2 linked regions of the Homo sapiens genome follow. The protein of the gene in region 1 interacts with the protein of each later gene in a pairwise test. Each region holds a gene or a part of one and is shown in the gene's direction. Other genes may lie near its edges.

What was found.
Region 2: the proteins of EXOC5 (region 1) and TXLNB interact in binary tests that used the Homo sapiens proteins (3 or more experiments, as listed by UniProt).

Annotation. Positions count from the first base shown.
Region 1 is NC_000014.9:57,198,876-57,204,570, reverse strand, and holds the end of EXOC5 (exocyst complex component 5), read left to right. Parts: 3' UTR 1-4,064; downstream 4,065-5,695. UniProt on the Homo sapiens protein: Component of the exocyst complex involved in the docking of exocytic vesicles with fusion sites on the plasma membrane.
Region 2 is NC_000006.12:139,252,358-139,262,153, reverse strand, and holds part of TXLNB (beta-taxilin), read left to right. Parts: intron 1-1,716; coding exon 1,717-1,836; intron 1,837-6,515; coding exon 6,516-6,590; intron 6,591-9,796. UniProt on the Homo sapiens protein: Promotes motor nerve regeneration. May be involved in intracellular vesicle traffic.

The DNA of each region.
Region 1 (5,695 bases):
AAGAAATCAGTGTTTTTATGTTCAAAAACTATTTTAAATGTCATAGGCTTGCCAATTGTGTTAACTATTTAGTACATTGGTAGTTTTTAAATGACTAATGCTGGAGTGAAAATGTAAGGCAAAATATTTAGTATATTAACAGTAGATAGTCATTTTCATGTAATCAGAATTGCATGTTAAGGGTTTTAAAAGCTGTCATAACTCTTACCTTTTATTTCTACCAGTGATCAATCATTTCTCTTTACAAATTTAGGGAGGAAACAACTGTTCAAATGTATAGGGGACAGAAACCTGACATTTAGAGAACAGAAATTTTAATTGCCAAATTAAAGCAGCTAGGCTGCCCCTGGGCTTAACAAAATTCCTATTTTTGAACTAGACCCGAGGTATTTTATCATTATTATTTGATAGGTACCATTAACCTTTGTTTTGTGATTATCGACTTTTGGGGGGAAAGATGAGTAATTAAACACACTCGCCCATTTTCTAAGTGGTTTAGAAGGTTGCAGTCTGCCTCACCATACAAAGCCAGTTTAAATAGGAATATATCACATCATACTTCACATAGCAGTCAACCTCAGAGGAAAGTCATTTATTCAGAAGGCATAGATTTTGCTAGACAGCAGTGATGCATTACAAATATATAATTATTTGCACTAATATTTGAGCAGGTGGAATGGATTAGAACATGGTCAACATCATGCTGCTGATAACATGTATTTTTCTATATTAATATGTACTGTGCAACATGTATTAAAATTGTCAATAATTCATTTTAGCCAAGATACTAATATTTATATTACTGTGTTTAAGAGACAGTATCCAACTGAGCCACTTTTAATTTAAAAGTCTGAAACTGGAATTAAGTTTACTTTCAAAAATCACTTAAATTACTTTATAATCAGTGAAAGGTCAGTAAAATGTAGAATTATAAGTGCCTAGTGACTTAATAGGAGGAAATATGGAGGGTTAAGGAAGGAAGTAGGAACCTGGAATAAGAAAGCTAAGTTTCATTTATAGTTCCAATGAGTGACTTTCTTTGTTTTCACCACTGGGAATCTTAAATGAAGAAAGTGTCGTATCCCTTCCAGTTATCTTTATGTTAATAAACTAAGTGAAGTTTGGATAGAACTAACAAAGGAATTAGTCTCCATTGGTGGACTTCCAGAGTTTTGAGATTAAACTTTGAGAGGTGAGAAGCCTTCCTGATGCCCCTGTAATCTTAAATTGGCAGGTGCCTCTAAGTGAGGCCATCCCTCTTTGCCTGCCTATCATTTTAATCTTTATACTGTAACTGGTTCCTTTCAACTCTGGCCTTTTATTGTAGCACTTTTATCAAGTCTGCAGCTTCCCAGCTACTTGGGAGGCTGAGGTGGGAAGAACACTTGAAGCTAGGAGTTCAAGACCACTCTGGGCAACATAGTGAGTCCCTGTTTTTAGAAAAATAAATAACCTTTAGGTTTTTGCTATAGAAAATATCCAAATAGAGTCTGGACAATGCTGGATGTAAAGAAAACTGTGAAGCTACCTCTAAGCATATTGTTTGTGAATACTGTGTACCATTTAGAGGATAACATGGGGGATTCACATGAAGTTATGTGAAAATATTTTATAAGGAATAATACCTAAGTGCCTCTCTTAAGTTCTCCAGTAGAATGTATTTTCAATTTTTGCCACAAGGGGGAGAAGTTATTTTTATAGTAATATGTACATTTTTTTATTTTAAAAATAGAATTCACACAACTTTACAGCATCTATGAACATTTTGCTATCCCAATTATGTGTGTGTGTGCATGTGTGTAAACAAGATTCTGAAAGTCTTGCATGAGAAAAATTTCAAAGGAAATTAATAACAAAACCAAAACAGTTTTGAAGAACATGTGCACAGTGGACACAGGAATTGAACAAAGTTTACCATGATTAACATTATGTTTTCTTAGTTATATATCACATTGAATTCCTTTATCAACTCTAATAAGAATCTACTGATTAGTGTTCTACATTCTGCTTTTTAAAGAAAAATTTTTGAAACAATCAGACTTAACAGAAGGGTTGTAAATACTGTACAAATAAAATTTTTCCCTTTTGAGAATAAGTCGCTGTCATGATGCTGCACCACCCTCCAATACTTTTGTATTTCCAAGAAGAAAGAATGCTTCAGTATAACTACAATACATGAAAATTGGGAAGTTAACATTGACATATTACTACTATCTAATCCTCAGACACCAATCATTTTACTAGCTGTCCTAATTCCTTTTAAGGATCTCAGTTCAAAATCATGTATTGCTTTAGGTTGTAGTGGCTCTAGTCTCATTCATTCTGACACAGTTCCACAGTCTTTCCTTGACTTTTTTGACTCTGGACATTTTTATAGATTATAGGGTAGTTACTTTGTAAAACACCCCTACATTTGGATTTCTGTTTCCACGTAATTAGATTCTGTTTGTGCTTTTTGGCAGACATACCACGGATGCAACTCTGTGTTATTGTTGCATCCTATCACATAGTACACAATTTCAATTTGCCCCATTTCTGATGATGTTCATTTTTATCACTTTCTTAAGGTACTATTTACCAGGCTTCTCCACTTTAAAACTATTACTTTTCCCTTTGTAAATATTTTGGAGGTAGATATATATTAATAGATACAGACATATATAGGTCCCCCTTATTTATTTATTTGCAGACAGAGTCTCGCTCTGTTGCCCAAGCTGGAGTGCGGTGGCGTGATCTCAGCTCACTGCAACCTCTACCTCCTGGGTTCAAGCGATTCTCCCACCTCAGCCTCCCAAGTAGCTAGGACTACAGGCACATGCCACCATGCCTGGCCAATTTTTCTATTTGTAGTAGAAATGGGGTTTTGCCGTGTTGGTCAGGCTGGTGTCAAACTCCTAGCCTTAAGTGATCTGCCCACCTCAACCTCCCAAAGTCCTGGGATTACAGGTGTGAGCCACCTTAACCAGCCATCCTTTATATATATATATATATATATATATATAATATTAATATATATAAAAATATATGTATATGTGTGGTGTGTGTGTATATATATACATATGTGTGTGTATATACACGTGTGTTTATACACGTGTGTGTACATATACACGCGTGTGTATATATACACACGTGTGTGTGTGTATATATATATACTAATCAGAATTCTCTTGATATCACTATGTATTCATAGTTTTCTGTTCAACTAATTATAATCTGTCATTTTACCAAATCTCAAATTATCCCAAATTTGGTCAGAAGTAGCCTCTTCAGGTTGTCTCCTGTGTCGTTTTGGCATGTTCCCATCATTTTTACAGCAATTTATTCTGGGCACAACAGGATTTTCCAAGGTCATCTTGTACTTGCCTTGCCCCAGCTCTGGAATCAGCCATTCCTCCACCTTTTAGTGAAATTGGCAGTTAGAAATCAAGATTTGTGCATGAGATGTGCTTATTATTATTGAGATGTCTCACCCTACTCTTTCTCAATAGATAATGCTAGGGGGCTTTATGTGTGCATACACACACACACACTCACGCATATTTTAAATATACACCCACACCCATGCGCCCCTCTGCAACATCTTCCTCACCTCACTTGAGCTTCCATACTCCATACTGGGCTTCCCCTCTCTCTGGAGGAGACCATCCTCATCTCACATAGCTCTTGAAGTTTTGGCTTTAGGACCAAATTGAGGGAATAAGAATGGTCATTGCAGAAATCCTGTAAAAATTTTAAAATATTAAATTTAAAAATTACAATTTTATCACGCAGAAACAACTATATTTTTGGTGGAAGTTTTTTTTTTTTTTTTTTAATGTAGTGAGCAAATTAGTAAAGCTGAATTGAGGAGGGGGTAAAGTGTTATGCCCAAGACACAGAACTTACATTTTGAAAGAATTAAATTTGAAATGCATACCGTATGTTTTTCTATTATACAATCTCCTTGCTACTGTAATTGCTATTTAATAAGAGTGCATCAGAGAAACTGTATGAATGGAAACCTGACCATTAAGCACTGAATACCAATAGGATATTTTTACTAATAAAGTTCAAAGGAAAAATGATCATACAATTGTTGTTTTTGTAGGCCATTAAAAATATATATGCTAAGAAGGATAGACTTCATGTGAGAAAGGAGTCTCTGGGCTGGATCTATTATAATAGATGTTACAATAAACTTAATGTGAAATAGGAGTCAAATGGAGGCACAAAGAAGTTAAATAACTTCACCAAAATTATATATCTAAAAAGTAATAGAATTCAAACTTACATCCTTAGGCTTCTATAGCCTATGTTTTAACCACTTTGCTCTGTTACCTCTAAGAAGATTTCATAAAAGAGGTCACATTTCAGCTGAGCTTTAAAAAGGCAAGTAGCATTTCATCAGTGGTGGAGGAGAAGGGGAATTCTAGGCAGAAGTAACTTATACTTGCAGGGTGTGGAGGCATGAGTCACTGGTATATCACTGAATGGAAAAACTGCTGTGTGAGTAGAGCTCAATGTGTGGGGTCCATCAAAAAGGGCAAGTTAAAACGAATATTTGGATTGGGGTTAGCTTATTTAGAGCCTTTAGGCCGGGCGTGGTCGCTCATGCCTATAATCCGAGCACTTTGAGAGGCCAAGGCGGGTGGATCACCTGAGGTCAGGAGTTCGAGACCAGCCTGGCCAACATGGTGAAACCCCGTCTCTACAAAAATACAAATGGCGGGTGCCTGTAATCCCAGCTACTCGGAAGGCTGAGGTGGGAGAATCGCTTGAACCCAGGAGGCGGAGGTTGCAGTGAGCCGAGATTGTGCCATTGCACTCCAGCCTGGGTGACAGAGCAAAACTTAGTCTCAAAAACAAACAAAGTCTTTAAAATGGTATCCCAATTAATTTAGGCTTTATCATAAAACCAGAAAACTATTGAGAATTAAGTAAGTGAATGACATGAACAATTCTGTGTTTTAGAAAAAGATAACTGGTCAGAATGTATGCAGTGGACTAAAGGAGAAGAGAGGGCAGAAACCAGGCTACTGCATTAATCTGGTGAAAGCCTGAACTGGGGGAGTAGCACAGGAATGAAGAGGAGGTGATGGATTCAGGGAATATTTGGAAGATTAAACCAATAGGACTTATTAATTGTTGCTTTATTAGATGTGGGGGGTAAGCAAGAAAAGGAATCAAAGATGATTCCGAGATTCTTAGTTTACATATCTTGGTGAATACCAACACTATGGACTTAAAATATATACCTTAGGAAAAGTAGGTCTAGGAGGAATGCCACTGACTACTGAAAGAACATCTCTTTTGCCAGAACTTGGTTCAGGTCATGCAAAAAATTTAAACTTCATAATCTGCTAGAAGTTGTGGCAGGAGAAAAAAAACTCCATCTATGGCTTTGAAAATAGGAGAATGATTTTTAAATTTTAATGGTATATAATTTGATTTTTATATATAATTGTTTGCATTGTTTTTTACTTAAAGCCAAAAAAAAAAAAAAAAGGAATTAAAAAGCTTTCCAACATTTTAGTGCTCGAATATAATGGGTAGACTCAAATGGAATAACACCGGTTGCCCTTTTTGATGTCAGTCCTTTAGAGAGTGTACACTGGAAGGTCTAAATATGATTTTCTCTGGTTGGATTATTCACATGCTAGGAATGCTTTACATTCTGATTCAAATTCTAAGCCAAAATCTTCCACTTTATCACTTA
Region 2 (9,796 bases), on another chromosome or scaffold:
CAGGTGGATTAAGAGGTCAGGAGTTCGAGAGCAGCCTGGCCAACATAGTGAAATCCCGTCTCTACTACAAATACAAAAAAAAATTAGCCAGGCGTGGTGGTGGGCGCCTGTAATCCCAGCTACTCGAGAGGCTGAGGCAGGAGAATCTCTTGAACCCAGGAGGTGGAGGTTGCAGTGAGCTGAGATCACGCCACTGCACTCCAGCCCAGGCGACAGTGTGAGACTCCGTCTCAAAAAAAAAAAAAAAAAAAAGAGTCTGTATTCTATGTACCCTACCAGGCCAATAATAGTATTAATAATGTAATCATTGTAATAATAATGATATCATTTATTCAGTGGTTAGTTTGTATCAGGCAATGTGCTAAGTGCTGTACTTTACATACCATATGGCATTTAATTGTCTCAACAATCTTATGCATTAGATAATAATATATTATCCATATCTTATAGATGAGAAGCAGAAGCTAAGAGATTAAACCACTTACCCACAGTCACAAGAGGCAAAAGCCTTTTACTTTGAATAGGTTATATTAGGGGGATGATCAAGGTCTTTTGTTATACCCAAATTATATTTTAATATTTAATATATTTTTAAGATTCCAGATACCCTCTCAGGATTTTGACACATCATATTCCTTTCCCTATCCCACCCAAATTTTAAATCTCTGCTTTAAAATGTAACATAACATAGTCAAAGCGGCTCTGTTGGTAACATGCTAAGATTTTATCAAGCACAAAACTGAGCCAACAGCATATGGTCGCGGTGGTTAGGTAAATCAAGAAACTCCTAATAGTAAGCCAAAATGCCATGCTACCATTTTATCTTGTCATAAGGATCAATCCCGCTCCAGAATGGAGGTTCAGACTAAAGAAGATAGGAAGGAGTGAAAGGAAAATGTCCATATTCTTCAGAGAGATCTCAGATGGGAATGGGCTGCTATGCTAGTTGTATATTCCTGGGACTGGTTCTAAGTAAAGCCCAAGGGGAGAATTCCATGTCCTGTTTCTGATTGGACCTCCCAGTGACCAGGAATTTATCCATCCTGAGGTAGAGTTGGAAGTTTCTCTTGACCAAACTAGTCCAGAGGTCAAAAGGTGTGGCGAGCTCTGCACATTTGCGACTCAATTTCTCTATGACCCTTGGCCTTGTCATCTCCACCAGAGCAACAGAGTAGAATTCAGGGGGGCTCAGGCCTCACTCCCAGACCTCGGACCACATGCTGGCACCCCAAGGCTTTCTCACAACGCCAGAGGCAAGAATGCAGAGAATTCATCATGATAAATTGCACAAGTGTTGCAATTAAAAGTGGTTTTATATTCACAGAAAGAGCCAAAATACCAAATGATACAACTGTAGCCCCTGTATATTGTATACTGATACATCATTGTCTGTGCTGTCTAGCATAATAAATAGCATCATATCTAATAGTTACCAAACGTAGAAAAATATTGTATGGATCTTTTGGCATTGACACTGCTGAACTCTGGTGCCTCTACCTTTTATAGCTAGCTTTGTGTGTGTGGTGCAAAGTCAGGGGGAGGGGTTCACCAATTTACAGCTTTATTATAAAGCTGTAAGTGATGCCAATGCATTTATCCCTCTCTTCTTTTAAATCTTAAAACCTGGGGAATGTGTATTAATGTGAATTATTTTACTTTGCATTTTTAAGCACCAATAATAAACCAAGCTTTCTATGTACACTTTATTTTTCTTAGCATCTGGACAAAATATTTAAACACAGAGAACTGCAGCAGAAGCTGGTGGATGCAAAGCTTGAGCAGGCCCAAGAAATGATGAAGGAAGCGGAGGAGCGACACAAACGAGAAAAGGAATATGTATTTATCATTTTAGTCGTTGTGCATATCTGGTCTACCTCAGTGTCAGAGACACTCTGAGCAAGTTGTTTTGTATTTATTTATTTATTTATTTATTTGAGACAGAGTCTCGTTCTGTCATTCAGGCTGAAATGCAGTGGCGTGATCTCAGCTCACTGCAACCTCAGCCTCCAGGATTCCAGCGATTCTCCTGCCTCCCCAAGTAGCTGGGATTACAGGTGCCCACTACCACAACAGGCTACTTGTTTTGTATTTTTAGTAGAGACAGGGTTTCACCATGTTGGCCAGGCTGGTCTTGAACTCCTGACCTCAGGTGATCCGCCTTCCTCGGCCTCCCAAAGTGCTGGGATTACAGGTGTGAACCATCGCGCCTGGACGCAAGTTGTTTTTATAATGGTCAAAGAGCACTAGACTGATGGAGAAAGAGCCCCAGCTTCTATGGAGAACTAAATTAGCCAGCCCAGTCTGAGGCACTATGTCTACACTACTTTCTACATAAAATAGTCATTCATCTATTCCACACATATTTTTCAAGTGCCTGTTATCTACTAAGCACCGTGTTAGGTGCGGGGACATAGCCGTGAACAAGACAGAGAAGGGGCATCTCCCACTATGGAGATTAGAGTCTAACTGGAAAGAGACAAGCAATAGACAAGCAAACAGGGAAGGGTCATTTCAGACAATAATCACCACTACTAAGGAAGTAAGGAGAAACTGAGAAGGGGCCAAAGAAGGGGACGTACTTTAGATTGAGTGACCAGGAAGGCCTCCTGGAGGGGCGAATGCTTGAGCTAAGCCCTGCCAGATGAGGAGCTGCTACTTGGAGCATCGTCTCCAGCATCTGCAGCAGCAACAAACGCCCTAATGCTGGAACCAATTTGGTGTGCTCCAGAAACAGGAAAAGGTCAGGGAAGCAAGAGCATGGGGGAGAGGTTCAAAATGAAGTTGGAGAGGTAAGCAGGTGCCAAACTGTGTAGCTTTGTAGGGCTTAAAAAGTTATTTGGATTTCATTCTAAATACAATGGGAAAGTACTGGGTGCTTCTGCAAAGGAAGTGATGGCATGATCTGCTCTGCATTTTCTAAGATTAATTTGGCTCCTGGATGGAAAATAGACTGCAGAGGGACAAGAGAGCAAGAAGACAGGAGGCTACTATAGCAATCAGATGAAATATGATGATGACTTGGTTTAGGGATATGGCAGCAGAGAAGAGGGGTGGAGATGGATGAAAGTTGTTTTCAATGTGAAATCAACAGACAGTGCTACAGACCTGAAGCTGGTGACAAAGAGAAAAGGAGAAAGTCAAGGATGACTCCTAAGTTTTGGGCTGAGGAAACTGAGTGGTGGTGTTTATTGATATCTCATTAACCCCAAGCACTCCCCAAAAAGCTGTAGGGTCATTCTACAGATGAGAGAATTGAGGCTCCAAGAAGATACGCAACTTGTTAAGGTTGCACACTGCTGACTGAGCAAGATGTGTTTTGATCTTATGTGCGTCTGTTCCCAAAGCCCACACTCTCTGTGACGGTGCATCACACTCAGACGTGTGTTTCAGAGGTATGAGTTGACGCATGTATCTGTTGCTGGGGTGAGAGAGAGGTAAAACATGGTCCATGGACCACTTATTCAAATTTGGCCATGTCACATTTTGATCTTGAGATTTTCATTTACCTAAAATCAGACCAGAATCAATTCAGTTGATTAGAATAGTAATTTTAAAATAAATTTTCAAACATGGCAACAAAAAGACAAATTTTGAGCAACATAATCTGGTGGACATTGGATAATTTCAAATCAGAAGTCCATGTTCTCTTAAGAAAAAGATTAATTTATGAAATCCATCTACAACCTAGCTCTGAAAGCAAGAAATAAAACATTCAATTATTATTCACAATCCAAGAGAATAGAAATTCCACCATTGGTGTAATTACCTTCTTGGGTAAAATATGCTTCCCATAGTATATTGGTACTTTGCTGTATAACACGAGACATGAAAGAGAAAGAACAAGACAAAGATGCACATGAGAGACATTGGAGAGCAGATTTGAGACGACCCAGCCTTAGCAAGAAACTAGCACCTGTTTTGGTTCAGCAAAACAGATTTGAGTCAAAGAGAGGGAGCTCATCTCACTTCTTCGAAGCTAGCCACCTACCTGGCTTGCAGCTGGGGCACCTCCTTTTGGAAGCGATGAGATATCAAGTCACCCAGGCAGAATAGGCAGCCACCAGCCTCCCTCGAGGTTGGGGGTCACCAATCACAACAAAGCTGCATAGCCAGCTCACAAGAAGCAGGCACAGTGCCACCACTCCCCTCAGATGGCCAGAGGGGACACTGTAGGGCTTCTACTCCACAGCTGCCCCAGTCCTCTCATAGGACCATTTGGTTGCACTTCTATGAGAATCAATCTTCATTGCACCCTGGGAGGCATAGAGGAACAAATGCAACCCATTTTACAAATGGAGAGGCTGGGTCATGGGAAAAAGACAAACTTAGATGAGGAAAAAGAAGCTTTCCAGTTTTTAAAAGTAATGATTTTATTGTTAGTTTTTTTGGTTCTGATTATATAATACATAGACCTCGTGGACTTTTTTTTACAATAGGGATAAACTAAAAGTGGGAAATTTTAATCAGCTTATCTTCAAATACAAGAGAAACTTCTTAATTGATAGCCTCCAGACTGACTAGCCAGATTGATCTCTGCGTTCACTGTTTTCTCTGTAAAACGCACTGACCGATGCCCACAGCATGCTGACTTGCAGGTCTACCCAGCCACTCTCTGGAAGGGCTACAAAATTTGCCCCAGTTTAGTAAGGTGGAGCTTACCAAGAATCAGCTCTTTGCACAAACCTTTTCTTTCCAATTGCACTTGCTTTTGTGTAAATCAACAGGATGTTACATAAACTGATGAAATATAAGTATGAAAACAAAAAACTGTTTGTGCAAATTATGCTTAGTGCTTTGAAAGACCAAATGCAAGCAAATGGCAAAAAACAACTGTCAAACTAGATATGAGTAGCTATAAAAGACTGGGGGGAAGTGGAAAACTCTAGAGAATTATCCAGACAAGCTGCTTCATAAGTATTTTTAGGTTCTAGCACTATCGCTAAACACACACACACACAAGCCTAACAACCTAGAAATCTTACATGGCACACTGTGGATGTGATTTTTAAAAATAATAATAAAAACCAAACAAAAAACCCTCTGAACTCTAATCAGAAGATCCATACCCAAAACAAAGACCACAGCCCTACCTCAAAATTGATAAATAGGCATTCATCTTAAGTTAAAATTACAAGCTTATATATGAATGTGTCATTGTATGCCCAAATCCCCTTTCCAATTTAACCCATCAGCTCTCAGGGGCCAGGATTTAGACCAATAGGTCAAACTTCTAACCCATACTTCTCAAAATGTAATCCACAGGCCACCGATATCCAGACCATTTTGGGTATTTTCTTGAAGCATAGAATTCAGTCACACTCTGTACTTCCTAAATCATATTATCTGAGAGGCATCTGCATTTTTAATATGTTCCGTAGGAGATTCTGATGCATGTTAGAAGCTCTGTGTCAGGAATCAGGGACAAAGACCAAGGACATACATAGTTCTTATTGTATCAAGTGTGCTATGGTGGAGAACAGTGGTCTAGGAGAATGATTCTGGATGTACTCTAAAGAAACAGTTGTTGGCCGGGCACGGCGGCTCACGCCTATGATCCCAGCACTTTGGGAGGCCGAGGCGGGCAGATCACGAGGTCAGGAGTTGGAGGCCAGCCTGGCCAACATGGCAAAACCCCGTCTCTAGTAAAAATACAAAAATTAGCTGGGCATGGTGGCAGGTGTCTGTAATTCCAGTTACTGAGAAGGCTGAGGCAGGAAAATTGCTTGAACCCAGGAGGCGGAGGTTGCAGGGAGCTGAGGTCACACCACTGCATTCCAGCCTGGGCGACAAAAGAGAAACTCCGTCTCAAAGAAAAAAAAGAAAAAAGAAAAGAAACAGTTGCTAACAAAAGTGCACCAAGTGGGGATGTTCTGGAGAGGTTCCAGCAGAGGCTGAATGATTGTTGGCCAAGATTACTAGAGAAGGTTCCAGAATGTGGTGGGAAGTTGAATTTTTTGTGATTCATACTTGAGCTAGAGACTATTTTTTTTATTAAAACCACTAGTTTATAGTTGAGAATCCAACTTTTTTAGACCAATTATTTTCTTAGCTTTCTTTTTCTTTATTTTTTTAGAAATGGAGTCTCACTCTATTGCCCAGGCTAGAGTGCAGCAGTGCCATCATAGCTCATTGCAACCTGGGATTCCTGGGCTCAAGTGATCCTCCTGCCTCAGCCTCTCGAGTTGCTGGGACTGCGGGCATGCACCACCACCCCTGACTAATTTTGGTTTTTTTTTTTTTTCAGTGACAAGGTCTCCCTATATAGCCCAGGCTGTTCTCAAACTCCTGGCTTCCAGCAATCCTCCCAGCTCAGCCACCCAAAGTGCTGGGATTATAGGCATGAGCCACCATGCTGGGCCTGGTTTTTTAAGCTTTCTTAGATTCTTTTCAAAGTTCCAAAAAATTACTTAAGGAGGTTAATGAGCAGGTTGCTAAGTTTTGTAGACAAATTACAGCCAAATAGTAATCTAAAAGGCAAATCTGACCATCTTTCCACACACTCTCTCTTCTCATAGTTGCTGAACCAGGCAGCAGAGTGGAAACTTCAGGCGAAAGTGCTGAAGGAGCAAGAGACAGTCCTGCAGGCTCAGGTGAGGCCAGGTGGACGAGGCATGGGGGTGCTGTCCTCACTGTCCCCAGATAAAAAGGCTGGGGCCAAAGGTGGGCAGCAGAAGTCCTCCTATGTGGCAGGGGATGGGGGGATGGGAATTGGAAATGAAGAACAACTTCACATTTATTCATATTTTCAAGTAAAAATAAAAGCACAATATTATATCTATGAAAAAGAAATGTTCTGCGCCGGCAACATCCAGTCAAAGGTTTGTTGACAGACAATGGATGACAGTACAGTGGTCAAGAGAGTCAGCCAGTGTCCAGGTTCCCATCTAGCACTTCTTATTTCCACCGTACTTCCCCTCTCATTGCCCTGTTAAGGTAAGAAGAAAACGTAAACTGCTCAGATGCACCATCTATGACTGGCGATTCTTAAGATGTCCTCATGTCTTGATATTATTTATCATAAAAAGAAAATGAGGCCGGGCGCAGTGGCTCACACCTGTAACGTCAGCACTTTGGGAGGCCCAGGCGGGCGGATCGCCTGAGGTCAGGAGTTCGAGACCAGCCTGACCAACATGGTGAAACCCCGTCTCTATTAAAAAATATATAAACATTAGCCAGGCGTGGTAGCATGTGCCTGTAATCCCAGCTACCCAGGAGGCTGAGGCAGGAGAGTCACTGGAACTCAGGAGGCGGAGGCTGCAGTGAGCCGAGATCACATCACTGCACTCCAGCCTGGGCGACAGAGTGAGACTCCATCTGTTTAGAAAGAAAAGAAAAGAAAATGAGAAAAATAGTCACCACTCAAGTTTCTATGCCATCAGAGGTTGGCCTTGTCAGTGGTGAATGGATACAAGTGTCAGGCAAGTCAGGAACCATTTTGGTTTGGCTGCGTGACAACTTTTATGTGCTTCTGTTAGACTCTGGGGGTTCCTATTTCAGACTCAAAAAAAGGGGGGACCATTCTGGACATTTATGCCACAGCTGACTCTGGAAGAAAGCCAGACCTACCCATCTTACCCCTACCTGGGGCTCTGCCTGTCCTAAATAATGGTCCCTGTGGGTTCCAGGAGTACCATCCTGCCACAGGCCACAGACTTCCACTGCCCTGGGAAACACCCAAGTGCTAAAGGGACTGTGAGGTCACAGGGAGAAATTCACCGAAGGCAAGGAAATCAGAAACCTTCCAAGCTGGGCAGCATTAATTTAAGATTTGTAAATGTTTATATGCTGACAGCTGAGTACTTGTTCACTGTAAACACACACACACACACACACACACAAATCGTGTTCATTGTAAAAGAAAAAAGCAAATAAGAAATTTAAAATCACAGATTATACTACTGCACAGACAAAAATACAGGGAACATTTTCATATCTAGCCTTCTTAAAGTATATTTCTGCAATGCATATATAGCAAAGCAATAATAAATTATTTTCTCCAGTATGAACTACTCTCTGATAATAAAGAAGAATTGTCTTAATACACTAGATACATAGAAGTTAGAACCATAATGTGTCTGAAGCAAAGGGCCCAGAGTTACAAACTCAAGATCATCCTTTAGGCAGTCACGGAACTCATCACATCATGGTGTAGGGTGGGTGGCTGACTGCTGGCTGTCTAGCAGAAGGAAAGGGGGTGTGACCTCAAGGAATCAAGCCAAGGCCTCTAATTCTATCTGTGCCTCATTCACCACACAGAGCCTTGAGGGGAACAATAAATAATACTTGAAGCTGTGCACTGTTCACATCATCTGCTACATGCAATCTCTACTCCTCCATGCAAAATGAAGACAATCAACTTGAGCAGAGTAGATTACATTGTTAAACTGTGGGCTACAGAGTGATTCACTCAGCTGGCATCAGAATCGAGGCCTTTAATGACCTGTACAATACAAATATTAAAGTTTTGATCTAATTTCCCCCTTATACCCCCTCAAACTTAAAAAACCATCAACCAGGGGTTCTAGATTTGCTATTGTTCCTCATTCATCCCTGAGTCAAGGCACCAGGTCAGAGTCCTGGCTCTTTTACCGAGAAGCTGTGTGACCCTGTGTAACCCACCTAAACCTCTATGGAACTAAATTTCCTTGTCTGCAAAATGAAAATGCTATAATGAATCAATGACCCCAGCCTGGAGTCGTGCAACCCCTGAGAGGCCTATGACTTTTCAGCGTTTCCAAAACATCAGCACATAAGGTAGCAGCTACTATCTAAAATGTAGTTGTTTCTGGTATTACTTCACCTCTTGCTCAGCAACTGTGGATGGAAATTATGCCTATGTTTAAGTTTTTAAAAGGAAAATCAGTTAATGCATATGTAATATATGTAGTTGGTTTTCAAATCATGCATCCAAAGCATTTTGCTCAGTGTCTGGCCCAAAATAAGCATAATTAATTCAACCAATATTTACTGAGCATCTACTAAGTGCTAGGCATGGTTCTAGGTTTGGCGATATAATCATCAATAAGAGAGAGAAAAATCTCTGCTTGACTATTAATTAGTGTATGAACTAGTAGTATTATTTCATAGGTAAGGATTTCATATAAGGAAATATGGAAATATGAGAAGGAAATATGAGACAACAGGAGTTTTTTGTTTGTTTTTGAGACGGTGTCTCACTCTGTTGCCCAGGCTGGAGTGCAGTGGCATGATGTCAGCTCACTGCAAGCTCCACCTCCCGGGGTTCACGCCATTCTCCTGCCTCAGCCTCCCGAGTAGCCGGGACTACAGGCACCTGCCACCACACCCGGCTAATTTTTTGTATTTTTAGTAGAGACAGGGTTTCACCGTGTTAGCCAGGATGGTCTTGATCTCCTGGCCTCGTGATCAGCCCACCTCGGCCTCCCAAAGTGCTGGGATTCCAGGCGTGAGCCACTGCGCCCGGCCCAACAGGAGTCTTAAGTTGCAAAAAAGTTGAAGAACCGCTGGAAAAGATGATCTCAAGATGCTATTCAGCTGTAGTTCATGAGCATAGAGAACTTCCAGAGCTGAAGAAGTGTGGCCCTAAGCTAAGTTGACCCCGCCTTGTCCATTGCCTGCAGTGTTCCACAGTGCAGGCAGCCTCACTAATTGCAAGAACCCTCCTTTGTCTTTCTTTTTTGTCTCCAAGTTACCTTTGAAATTCCAATAATTACTTAAGCCTCAAGAATAAAATAGAGGTCCTGAATCCCTATGCGTAATCATGTTTAAACAAGCTCCTCATTAAAAAGTATCAACATTATATTTCTAAAACTTCTAA